Regions from separate parts of the Homo sapiens genome. Here region 2 is linked to region 1. Evidence: fine-mapped expression QTL. A gene starts in region 1. The other region holds a variant in brackets. All regions are shown on one strand. Distances are between the middles of the regions.

Evidence for each region. PIP is the estimated chance that this variant, and not a neighbour inherited with it, causes the effect.
Region 2: its variant is fine-mapped to the expression of CAPN1 in whole blood (INTERVAL, PIP above 0.99).

What each region holds. Positions count from the first base shown.
Region 1 is chr11:65,180,005-65,185,373 of GRCh38, forward strand. It overlaps CAPN1 (calpain 1), which reads left to right and starts at 1,924. Exons shown (of 22, transcript NM_005186.4): 1 at 1,924-2,009; 2 at 2,697-2,964; 3 at 3,124-3,193; 4 at 3,470-3,588. The coding sequence starts at 2,698. CAPN1-AS1 (CAPN1 antisense RNA 1) reads right to left here and starts at 1,830. Exons shown (of 2, transcript NR_145677.1): 1 at 1,221-1,830; 2 at 1-1,068. RefSeq lists silencers at 1,243-1,692, 2,294-2,588 and enhancers at 1,611-2,400, 2,401-3,189, 3,190-3,979, 5,163-5,369.
Region 2 is chr11:65,143,953-65,149,321 of GRCh38, forward strand. It overlaps the pseudogene HIGD1AP10 and the pseudogene RNU2-23P. Among named protein-coding and RNA genes, the nearest start is that of SYVN1, 12 kb to the left of the region's middle. The variant C/CA (reference allele first, on the strand shown) is at 2,323.

The DNA of each region.
Region 1 (5,369 bases):
TTGAGAAACAAAAGCGTTTTATTTTGATGAAGTTCAATTTATTGATTTCTTCTATCATTTACACTTTTTGTGTCATATTTAAGAAATCTGGCCAGGTGCCAAAGCTCACACCTGTAATCCCAGCACTTTGGGAGGCTCAGGCAGGAGGACTGCTTGAGCCCAGGAGTTCATGACCAGCCTGAGTAACACAGCAGGACCCCATTTCTACAAAAAATTTAAAAATTAGCTGTGTGTCGTGGCACGTGCCTGTAGTCTCAGCTACTCAGGAGGCTGAGGTGAGAGGATCTCTTGAGCCCAGGAGTTTAAAGTTACAGTGAGCTGTGATCAGGGCACTGCACTCCTGCCTGGTCAATGAAAGCAAGACCCTGCCTTTAGAAAAGAAAAAAGAAATCTTTTCAAACCCAATATTGTTAAGATTGTCTCCATTTTTAAAAAAAAAAGTTTTATGGTTTGGCCATTTATATTTAGGTGTGTAATCCAGTTTGAGTTAAATTTTGATGGTGTATCCTAAATAGTTATCAAATCCATCTACTTCTGCCTGCCACCTCTCTAGTTTAAACCACCCTTCTCTGTCCCTGGACACCTGCGCAGAAAGCCTAGGAGCTGGTTCCACCCATCACTCACCAGGTTAGGTATTTCAGGCAAGTCACACCCTCTCAGGCCTCAGTTTTCCTCTTTTGTTAACTGAGGGTGAAAGTGGGGTTAGATTAGATCAGCGGCTCTTAACTTTTGAGGGGTCGTGGGCCCTAGAGTCCTGGGAACGCTATGCAGTTTCCTCAGCAAAATGCTTGCATCCACAACATGCAAGACTGCAGCAGCTGCTGGGCTGGGGCTGCGAGACCAGCGAAAAGCCCTGACTTGGGGGGGTCTCGGGAGTCTCTGCAGTCTCCCCACCCACACCCCCGGCCTCCGCGCCGAATCCTGGCCCCCCAACTTCTTGCAGCCCGTGAAGCAGGATCTCAGGGTCCTGGGGGTGGGGAGAGGGGGCTGCCGTCCTGCTCGCAGCCTCTGCCGCCCTCTCCTGGGTAAGGTGACACATGGGCGCTTCCAGGTGGGTGGGCTGAGAGCCTGGGGGAGAGAACAGGGATGTCCACCTCTCTAAGTTTCCAGGTTCAAGAAACCCCAGAACGTTAGAGAAAGATGGGCTCCCACAATTGCCCAACCCCATCCCATAGGATGCACGCATGCGGAAAGTCGGGCCGAACGGGGCAGGGACTTACCCAAGGTCACGCAGCGAGCCCGGTCCCCCTGCGTTCCCCGGGGAGCGCTGAGCCGGGACGCGGCGGTGGGGTGGGGAAGGGGAGTGGCGCGGCCCTGCGGGGTGAGGCTGCCGTTTGCTGAGTGTCCGGCAGGGGTCTGCTCGCTGCCAGCCCGGCCCCTCCTCAGAGCAGCTGCCGCAGCCCGAGGTAATCTCGGCCCCGCGCCGGGGCTGGCTGGGAACGGCGGGAGCAGCTGCGGTCGCGCGGAGCGAGGGGAGCTGGGGACCGGGCGGGCCCGGGGCTGCGGGAGGCGGCGCCGCCGCACAATCGCCCCGGAATGCCCGCCAGGGCGCGCGTGGGGTGCGGCCGTCCGGCCCTGCAACTCGAGCTGCTGCCCCTGGTTAAAAATACCCCCTGCCCGGCCCTCCCCCTCCGTTCCCCGCGGTGCCCTTCCGCCGCGCCCCAGCCCCCCCATCCCCCCCCGCGCTGGCCCCTCCCCGGGGACTGCTCTGCCTTTTACTAATTTGTCCTCTCGCGGAATTGGCCCCCGGCCTGCGGAGGGAGGGGCGGGGAGACACCGTGAGTAAGAGATAGTCAGAGACCGTGCCGGAGAGATAAGGGAGAGCCGAGAGGAAGCGGGGTAGGAGCCCCAGGAGGAGGAGGAGGAGAAGGAGAGAGGGAGGGCGGAGGGCGGAGGGGCGGCGGGAGGAGGGCGGGGAGGAGCGCTCTTCCTGGTTGGGCCCTGCCCTGAGCTGCCACCGGGAAGCCAGCCTCAGGGACTGCAGCGACCCCCAAACACCCCTCCCCCAGGTAAGAAGCTGGGTAGCCGAGCCGGGATTCCTTGACCCTGGCCACTGCTCCTGGGCTGAGGGGCTGCCCCAGCACGGTCCCTTCTCGGGGGCCTCTGCGTTCCTGGAGCAGGGGTGGGGGCTGGCGGAGCGGCACAGCCCAGGCGCCTGTCCCAGCCTGGCTCACCGCTGTCCCCAGGGGCTGGGCTAGGGCCCACCAGCTCTGATATCGAGCCTGCTGCGGGGGCCTGAGGAGGGGGACCCCGACCGTCTGGGGTTTTCAGCCCACGGCAAGGGGCCGGTGCACCAGGAGCTTGGTTAGTTTGGGGAGGGGGTTGCAGGCCTGTGAACAGGATCAAAGAGGCCTTCCCTGCTGTGTCCCACCTGCCCAGTTCCTTGTGCTGTCTGGAGGCTCCGCCCTGCCCCACCTGACCTGCTGGCTCACTACAGAGCTGCAAGCCCCTGACAATGGGATCCGGGAAAGGAGAGGTGGCCGGCACGCCTGGGAACTGGGAAATCCCTTTCCTGGATTCACTGGGAGCACCGGGAGGTGGCTGAGAACCCTACTTCTGTGAGGGGAGCAGTGAGGCAGGGAAACCCTAGGTTTGGGGATGGATAAGCAGGGGCAGGAGAGCAGAGCTTGCAGGCAGGAGCCCAGGTTCTAGTCTTGGGAAGGCCTGGGTTCTGAGCAGGCCCATCTGTCCGGCAGGATGTCGGAGGAGATCATCACGCCGGTGTACTGCACTGGGGTGTCAGCCCAAGTGCAGAAGCAGCGGGCCAGGGAGCTGGGCCTGGGCCGCCATGAGAATGCCATCAAGTACCTGGGCCAGGATTATGAGCAGCTGCGGGTGCGATGCCTGCAGAGTGGGACCCTCTTCCGTGATGAGGCCTTCCCCCCGGTACCCCAGAGCCTGGGTTACAAGGACCTGGGTCCCAATTCCTCCAAGACCTATGGCATCAAGTGGAAGCGTCCCACGGTGAGAGGGGCCATCCTGGGTGGGACTCGGCTAAGCCAGATCCTGGATGAGGAGTAGGGATGGGACTCCATGTCCCTGGTGGGGAATGGGGTCTGGGGTGGCCTGGTGCCAATTTCTGGGAGGGGCTGGCCGAGGAACAGGACTCTGGGTCTCTCGTAGGAACTGCTGTCAAACCCCCAGTTCATTGTGGATGGAGCTACCCGCACAGACATCTGCCAGGGAGCACTGGGTAGGCCCCCAGGGCGTCGGGTCCCGGGTATTTTTTCCACAGTAGTTCCCCATTCCCGCTCCTTCAGGCTCTGCCCCAACCCCTCCCTCTTGCAAGCCCAGGCAGGATCTGGCTATCAGCGCTGGGGCTGGTTTGCCCAGATTCCTGGGTCTTTTCTGCAAGCTGAGGGGAGTTAAGTGGCACCCTGGCCAAGGAACCCCAGATTCTCCCTAGCACCCGCTTCCCCCCCCGGGGCAGGTTGGTAGAGCAGGCTAATGTGCATCCCTCCTGCCCCAGGGGACTGCTGGCTCTTGGCGGCCATCGCCTCCCTCACTCTCAACGACACCCTCCTGCACCGAGTGGTTCCGCACGGCCAGAGCTTCCAGAATGGCTATGCCGGCATCTTCCATTTCCAGGTGAGGGCTCCCCTGGGGAGGAGGGGCAGCAGGCACTGGGGGAGATGCGGAAGGATGACCCACAATACCTGCAGTTAGGGCCACACCCTGTGGGGCCAGCCCTCCCTCTAGCAGGTATTTGACCTCTCAGTGCCATCTCGGGTCTGTCATGTGTGAAGTGACTGGGCTGGGCAGGTATTTCGGCTGGCAGTTTTCCTAGGTGGTTGTATGTATCAGGTGGAAAGTGCTTGAAAGAACAGAAAGACTTTTGTGTTATATCCTGTGGGACAAATTCCACTCCTCCCGGAGGTCGGTCTCAGTTGCCCCATCTGAGAAAGGAGTGTTCGCTGGGGAAAACAGATCAGCACGTGTGGCCTTCTCCACGTGTCAAGCCTCCTATCCCCCAACTCCTCCTGCGCTTTGGCAAGGTCTGACTGAGCCCAGCAGAAAAGAAAGACTCGGGATTAAGTCTACGTAAACCAGCTTTTCCTGACGGTGTGCCCAGGGCCCATTTTTCAAGTCACACCAATCAATTCTCAATGAGCTGCCTTTGGGAGGGACATGCCCAGCAACCCTGGATGAGACTCTCCAGCCTTGGAGGCCCCAGCCCTGCCCGAAGGACTCTTGGGTGTTCCCTCCTTCTGCCTGGTTAGAGAGCCCCTTACCCTACTCTGTCCTTGCCCGCCTTGCGCGGGTGGAGGTGGCCCTCGGAACCCAGGGTGCGGAACCCACAGTGCGGATCCACTTTGGCCCAGCGCCACACCCACCTGCTCCAGTCTGCAGGGGCGCAGTCTCGCCCCCTTCCCTCGCTCCTCCAATCCGCTCCTCCCTGGCCTCCGATTGGCCAGTTCAGTACCCGCCACCCACACTCTCCGCAACCTGGGCTCCTAGGGCCGCCTCCACCCCGCCCCGCCCCCCGTTGTCCTGGCCCCGACCCCTCAGATGGTACCTCGAGTCCTTGGTCGCTTCTGACCCCAGACGCCTTCGGCCCCGACCCTGCCCTGGGAAACGTGGCCTTTGTGGCATCTCAGAAACAAAGCCCGTGATTGTGAGAACCAGTCCTGCCCATCTTGTGGTTGTAGGATCTGGATGCCACATTTTCACTGCTCATCCAATGACACAGGTGCCCCTAACCCCCTTGAATAGGGAGGGAAGAGCCAGGGGGCCATGGCCTAAAAGGGGGCTAGTTCCGGAAAGCCCAGGCCCCAGAGCTTTTCCACCTCTCCGTGCCTGAGGAGGAACCCTGTTTGTTCAGTGACTCCCTAAAGGCTTTGCCTGTGCTCTTGTTTAAGTCTTCCGTGAAGAAGGCACCGCTGCTCCTTTTTATGGATAGGGAAACTGAGGCTCAGAGGCGATAACTTTTCCAGGATCATGTAGCTAGTATGTCTCGAGCATACATGTACATATCAAGTATACACATGTCTATATGTGGTATGCATGTATTAGTATACAGCAAATATGCAGGTATCTAGTATACATTGTACAGGCAAAGGAAAGCATCCCCTTAGCCCTCTGAAGGTTCACTGAAAAATCAACTCACAAAAGGAGGTTAGTAGGAGAAATGGCATACAAATTGATTAGCCTGCAGCGTGGGGTCGGGAACCACAGAGTGTTCACCCCAGCCCCACAATGGGTACAGAAGCCTATATACCATCCTGAGGTTACAGGAAGAATGGGGGCTCGAACATGGCCAAAACCAGTTTCTGGTGGTAAATCAGGTTATAGTGGCAAGACAGACTATGGAAGGGGGAGAAAAGGGGGCCTGGGTAGCAAAGGCAGTCTTGTTATGTAGATGAAACCTC
Region 2 (5,369 bases), 36 kb before region 1:
TGAGGAACTATTCTCTCTCTTCCATGGTGGAACACTCCAGGTACTCCCAGCCTGGAAGGCCAGACCCTCCAACTTTCCCTGAATGACCCCCTCACCAAGAAGTGTGCATTGAATGTGGGACTGACCACACATGAGGTCAGTTTGTTGGTCTATCTAGACTGCCTTTGGACTTCCCTTGCCTCTGATCTCATTCCTTTAATTAACAAACATTTACTGAGGGCCTACTGTGTTCAGGCCCCAGGCCAGGTTCTGAGGACATTGTGGAGAACAAAATACATTCCCTGACCTCATGGAGCTTTCAGTCTCATGGTAGAGAGATCCACAAGCTAATTGCAGGTTATTTGACTGTCTGCTGAATGAATGCATTAGTGGAAGAATGAATGAGTAAAAGCTACATTGTCCAAATTCCTGTCCTGTCAGAATTGATGTTGACGTTCTTTTTTTTTTTTTTTTTTGAGATGGTCACTTACTTTAACAACAGTACATATACCATGTTATCACCATGAAATGTAAATTCAGGTTAGACAAGAAAATTTCACAAATGTAATAACATTCTATAGTTTATAAAAGTTTGGGTATACTGTCTGGCCAAACCAGCTTGCTCATAAGTCATTAATCAATTCCATTATAGGTAATTTGATTAGTTTAATGTTTGTAATTCTTATGGAAAAAATAAGCAATGCACACATTTAAAAAGTGCTCATTGGGCTGGGCACGGTAGCTCATGCCCGTAATCCCAGCACTTTGAGTGGCTGAGGCCCAGCGGATCACGAGGTCAAGATCGAGACCATCCTGGACAACATGGCGAAACCCTGTCTTTATTAAAAATATAAAAATTAGCCAAGGATGGTGGTGTGCACCTGTAGTCCCAGCTACTCAGGAGGCTGAGACAGGAGAAGTGCTTGAACCCGGGAGATGGAGGTTGCAGTGAGCTGAGATCACACCACTGCACTCCAGCCTGGTGACAGAGCGTGACTCCGTCTCAAAAAAAATAAAATAAAAGGTGCTCATTTACCTTTGCATGAGTGCTTAAATACATATTTCTATCTCAAGATGACATTTAAAAATTATTCAGATATAACAGCAGCAAAAATATAATTCTGCAATTACAAAATAACTAAACTAGAATCCATAAGTTATTCTCATGTTCACAACTGTGATTCTTTAATAAATACCACTACTATGCAGCTATAATGTAAGCTTTCTAGATTTGGTTTAAACACACACACATAGATACTGTCAGTTGTGGGAAGCTTTACAAGTTTTATTCCATGCACTTTTTAGACAGAGTTCTGAAAGAGCCAGCCAGTCCACAAGACAGGCAGAAAAAAAGTTAAATTAACTAGGGCAAATAGGACTCTTATATAACATCCGAAACATGTGAGATCCTGCAGCAAACTGGGAGTACTTCAGGGTTGGCTTGTTATATCCTTTAGAACTTAAGTTCATCTTCACAATTGAAGAAGGTGGACATTTCAACACCATCTAGTGCATTTAGGTGACATGTTTCTTTTATGCTAACTTGATTTCCTTGAATGACCTAGTTAGTAAACTAGTCACTAGTAATTAAGTCACCAGGCAAATCAAGCCTGCAAGAAAGGAAGCCAATATTCAAAATGCTGTGTTACCATCTAAACCCACTCAAATAGTTTATTTTCCACAATAACACATAACTTCAATAATGAGATGTCTAACTAAAGCAAGCTCCTCCAACAAGACCAAGACAGCATCTCTTCTTCTAGGGCTTAGGTTTTGCCCAGAATTCTCGATACATGGAATAGCCCATACCAATAGTCATTGCTCCTACAACAAAGCCTTGGGCTGCCACACGCATGTGGATCAGATGAAGGGACATTTGCGTATTTCCCCTGCTCTTCAATTTGTATAATCCATATGTAACAAGTGCTGCAAAACCTGCTATTCCAACGGGTACCAATGGTGTCTCTTTAGCTTTACGAATAAGTTTGGATCCCTGAGCTTCGTCATATGAAGAAAGGGAAACATCTGTGTCTGTTGATATAATGACTGCTTGAAGAATCTCCCGGCTGGGCGCGGTGGCTCATTCCTGTAATCCCAGCACTTTGGGAGGCTGAAGCGGGCGGATCACGAGGTCAGGAGATCGAGACCACCCTGGCCAACATGGTGAAACCCCGTCTCCACTAAAAATACAAAAATTAGCTGGGCATGGTGGTGCCGGCCTGTAGTCCCAGCTACTTGGCAGGCTGAAGCAGGAGAATAGCTTGAACCCAGGATGTGGAGGTTGCAGTGAGCCGAGATTGCACCATTGCACTCCAGCCTGGGCGACAGAGCGAGACTCCATCT[C/CA]AAAAAAAAAAAAAGGAAGAAGAAGAAAACCTCTCACACCTGATGTCAACATTCTTTTAGTTAACATTTAACATGTTTTTCTTGAGTGCCAAGTATGTGACAGATTTAGAGCAAGGGTTTTTACAGGGCATACAATGTAACACCCTGTCTTTCCCTGACCAAGTTTAGTACCATCTGAAAAACAGACACATAGGATAGAGATAAAAATGTTACTTCTGTAACCAATAGAGTTGTTGAGAAAATGCATTTGAAGTCCCTGTACCCGTCCCAGAGCTGCACAGACTTACCCACTCTGCTCCCAAAGGTTTCTCCTTCTTTTGATGTAGGGTAGGCAAGCCCCCAAATTGGGGCTTAGCCCGGGAGGGTTCTTGGCTTTGTCCAGGAAATAATTCCAGGGTGAGCCAGTGCTGTTAGACAGACACTTTTAGTGAAGTGGCAGTGCACAGCAGCAGCAGATGTACTGTTCCTTGCACACCAGGGCTACCCCGAGTAGCAGCTCAGAGGTAGTTCTGCAGTCATATTTATACCCACTTTTAATTATATGCAAATTAAGGAGAAGATTATGCAGAAATTTCTAAAAATAAGGTGGTAACTTCTGAGTCGTTTGGTCATTAACACAGAAAGAGGCAGTAACTTCCAGGTGTTACCATGGCAATGGTAAACTGACATGGCACACTGGTGGGTGTGTCTTATGGAAAGCTGCCTCCACCCCATCCCTGTTTTAGCAAGTCCTCAATTTGGTCTGGTGTCCCAGCCCCACCTCCAGAATTGAGACCTGCCTCCTACCTCACTTTGGGTCCCATACATAGTTGCTTCTAACAACTTCACCAAGAAAACTCTCTTTTCTACTTCTTGGGAGGGGTGAGTGAGAGAAAGTGGGACAAGGCCACTTTTCTGCAGTGTTAGTTACTCCAGAAAAGGTCCACCATGTGGAAACAGATATAATGAGAAATAATCCTTAGTTTGTGTTAATCAAACCCAGTCAGTTATCCAACCAGTCAATTCCTCAATCCAAGCAGCATGAAACTGCACTCCTAGTTAGGTTTGTGGATTATAAATGCTCATAAATTCCTTATCCCGTCCCTCATGGAAAGGTGGGGTTTACTTCTCCACCCCCTTAATTCTGGACTTGGCCTATGACTTGCTTTGAACCAGTAGAATATGGTGGAAATGAAGCTGTGCCCAATTCTGGGCTTACCCTTTAAAACAGAACTGGCAGCTTCTGTTTTCTTCTCTTGGAATTCAGCCACCATGCTGTGAGGAAGCCCAAGCAGTCCTGTGGGGAGGCCCATGTAGAGGAGAATCAAAGCTCCATTCTCAGCCTTTTGGGTAAGATCAAGTGTAGTATCTGTTCTTATCAGTTTAATATCTGATATGTCCTCTATTCGAGGACACAATCTATATTAAATAGATTTTTGGAACTAAGAGATGGAATAGGAGCTTGCCCCACCCACTCCACACATTTACCTAGCATTGCAGTACCTCCAGGAACAGTGTACCCCTAAAGGGAGATAAAGTTTAAAAATGAAAAAAATAGGGAATAAAAAGCTCTAGCCCTACCATCCAATTGGCTGGGGGAATTTAAATAAATAAATAAATAAATAAATAAATAAATAAATAAATAGCTCTAGCCAGCATCAACTTGCCAGCCATTGGAGTGCACCATCTTTGAAGGGTCCTCCAGCTCCAAGGATGGAGCTGGAGGCACAAGAAGAGCTGTCTCAACCAGGCCTTGCCCAAATTGCATAATGGTAAGAAAATAAATGATTGGTATTGTCATAAGCCTCTAGGTTTGAGAGTGGCTTGTTTCACAGCCCTAATCTAATTTGACTCCCTGTTCTTGGCCCCAGACCCAGGGCCTGCCACAGAATAAGAACTCAGGGAGTGTTGAAGAAGTGAGTCAACAAATGATTGGGCTGAGCGTGGTGGCTCACGCCTGTAATCCCAGCACTTTGGGAGGCCGAGGCAGGTGGATCATCTGAGTGAGGTCAGGAGTTCAAGACCAGCCTGGCCAACAGGATGAAACCCCATATCTACTAGAAATATAAAAATTAGCCAGGTATGGTGATGCGTGCCTGTAATCCCAGCTACTCAGGAGGCTGAGGCAGAAGAATCACTTGAACCCAGGAAGTCGAGGTTGCAGTGAGCCAAGATAGCGCCACTGCACTCCAGCCTGGCTGACAGAGTTAGACTCTGTCTCAAAAAAAAAAAAAAAAAAAAAAAAAAAAAAAAAAAAAAAAAAAAAAAAAGACTGGATTGGCTAAGTGGATGATGGATGATTGAATGGTTGGATAAGTGAATTGTGTTAAGCCTGACAGGTCTAGAGTGATGAGCTGTGGCAGAATCAGGGGCTCAGAGTCCAGTAGCTTCAAGGAGGATGAGAAGCCATCTCTGCTGGAATTGTTATAAATAATTTCCTGGGAAGGGTCCCTGGCAGATCTACTTGGAGTGGCATTGTCACAGGCAGTGCATACTCAGCTGCTCAGGTGAGACACTAACTGCAAGCCCAGAATCTGGAAAGCTCCACAGTGCAGTGGGCCCAGCCTTACTATCCCTGCTGGAACCACACCAGCAGAAGGAGTGCCCGAGGGCTGCTACCTGTCTCCCTCGACTCCACTTAGTTCCAAATGTAAGTCTCACATGATTGAAACTGTGGAAGGAGGCTGGGTGCGGTTGCTCTCACCTATAATCCCTGCACTTTGGGAGGCCAAGGGGGCGGATCACCTGAAGTCGGGAGTTCAAGACCAGCCTGACCAACATGAAGAAACCCCATCTTTACTAAAAATAAAAAACTAGCCAGGCATGGTGGCACATGCCTGTAATCCCAGCTACTTGGGGGGCTGAGGCAGGAGAATCACTTGAACCCAGGAGACAGAGATTGCAGTGAGCCGAGATCACACCACTGCACCCCAGCCTGGGGAGCAAGAGTGAAACTCAGTCTTTTAAAAAAAAAAAAAAAACCAGAAGGAATATATGTAACTCAAGTTTTGTGTGGTTTTTTTTTTTTTTTTTTTTTTTTTTTTTTTTTTTTTTTTACCGTTCCAGCC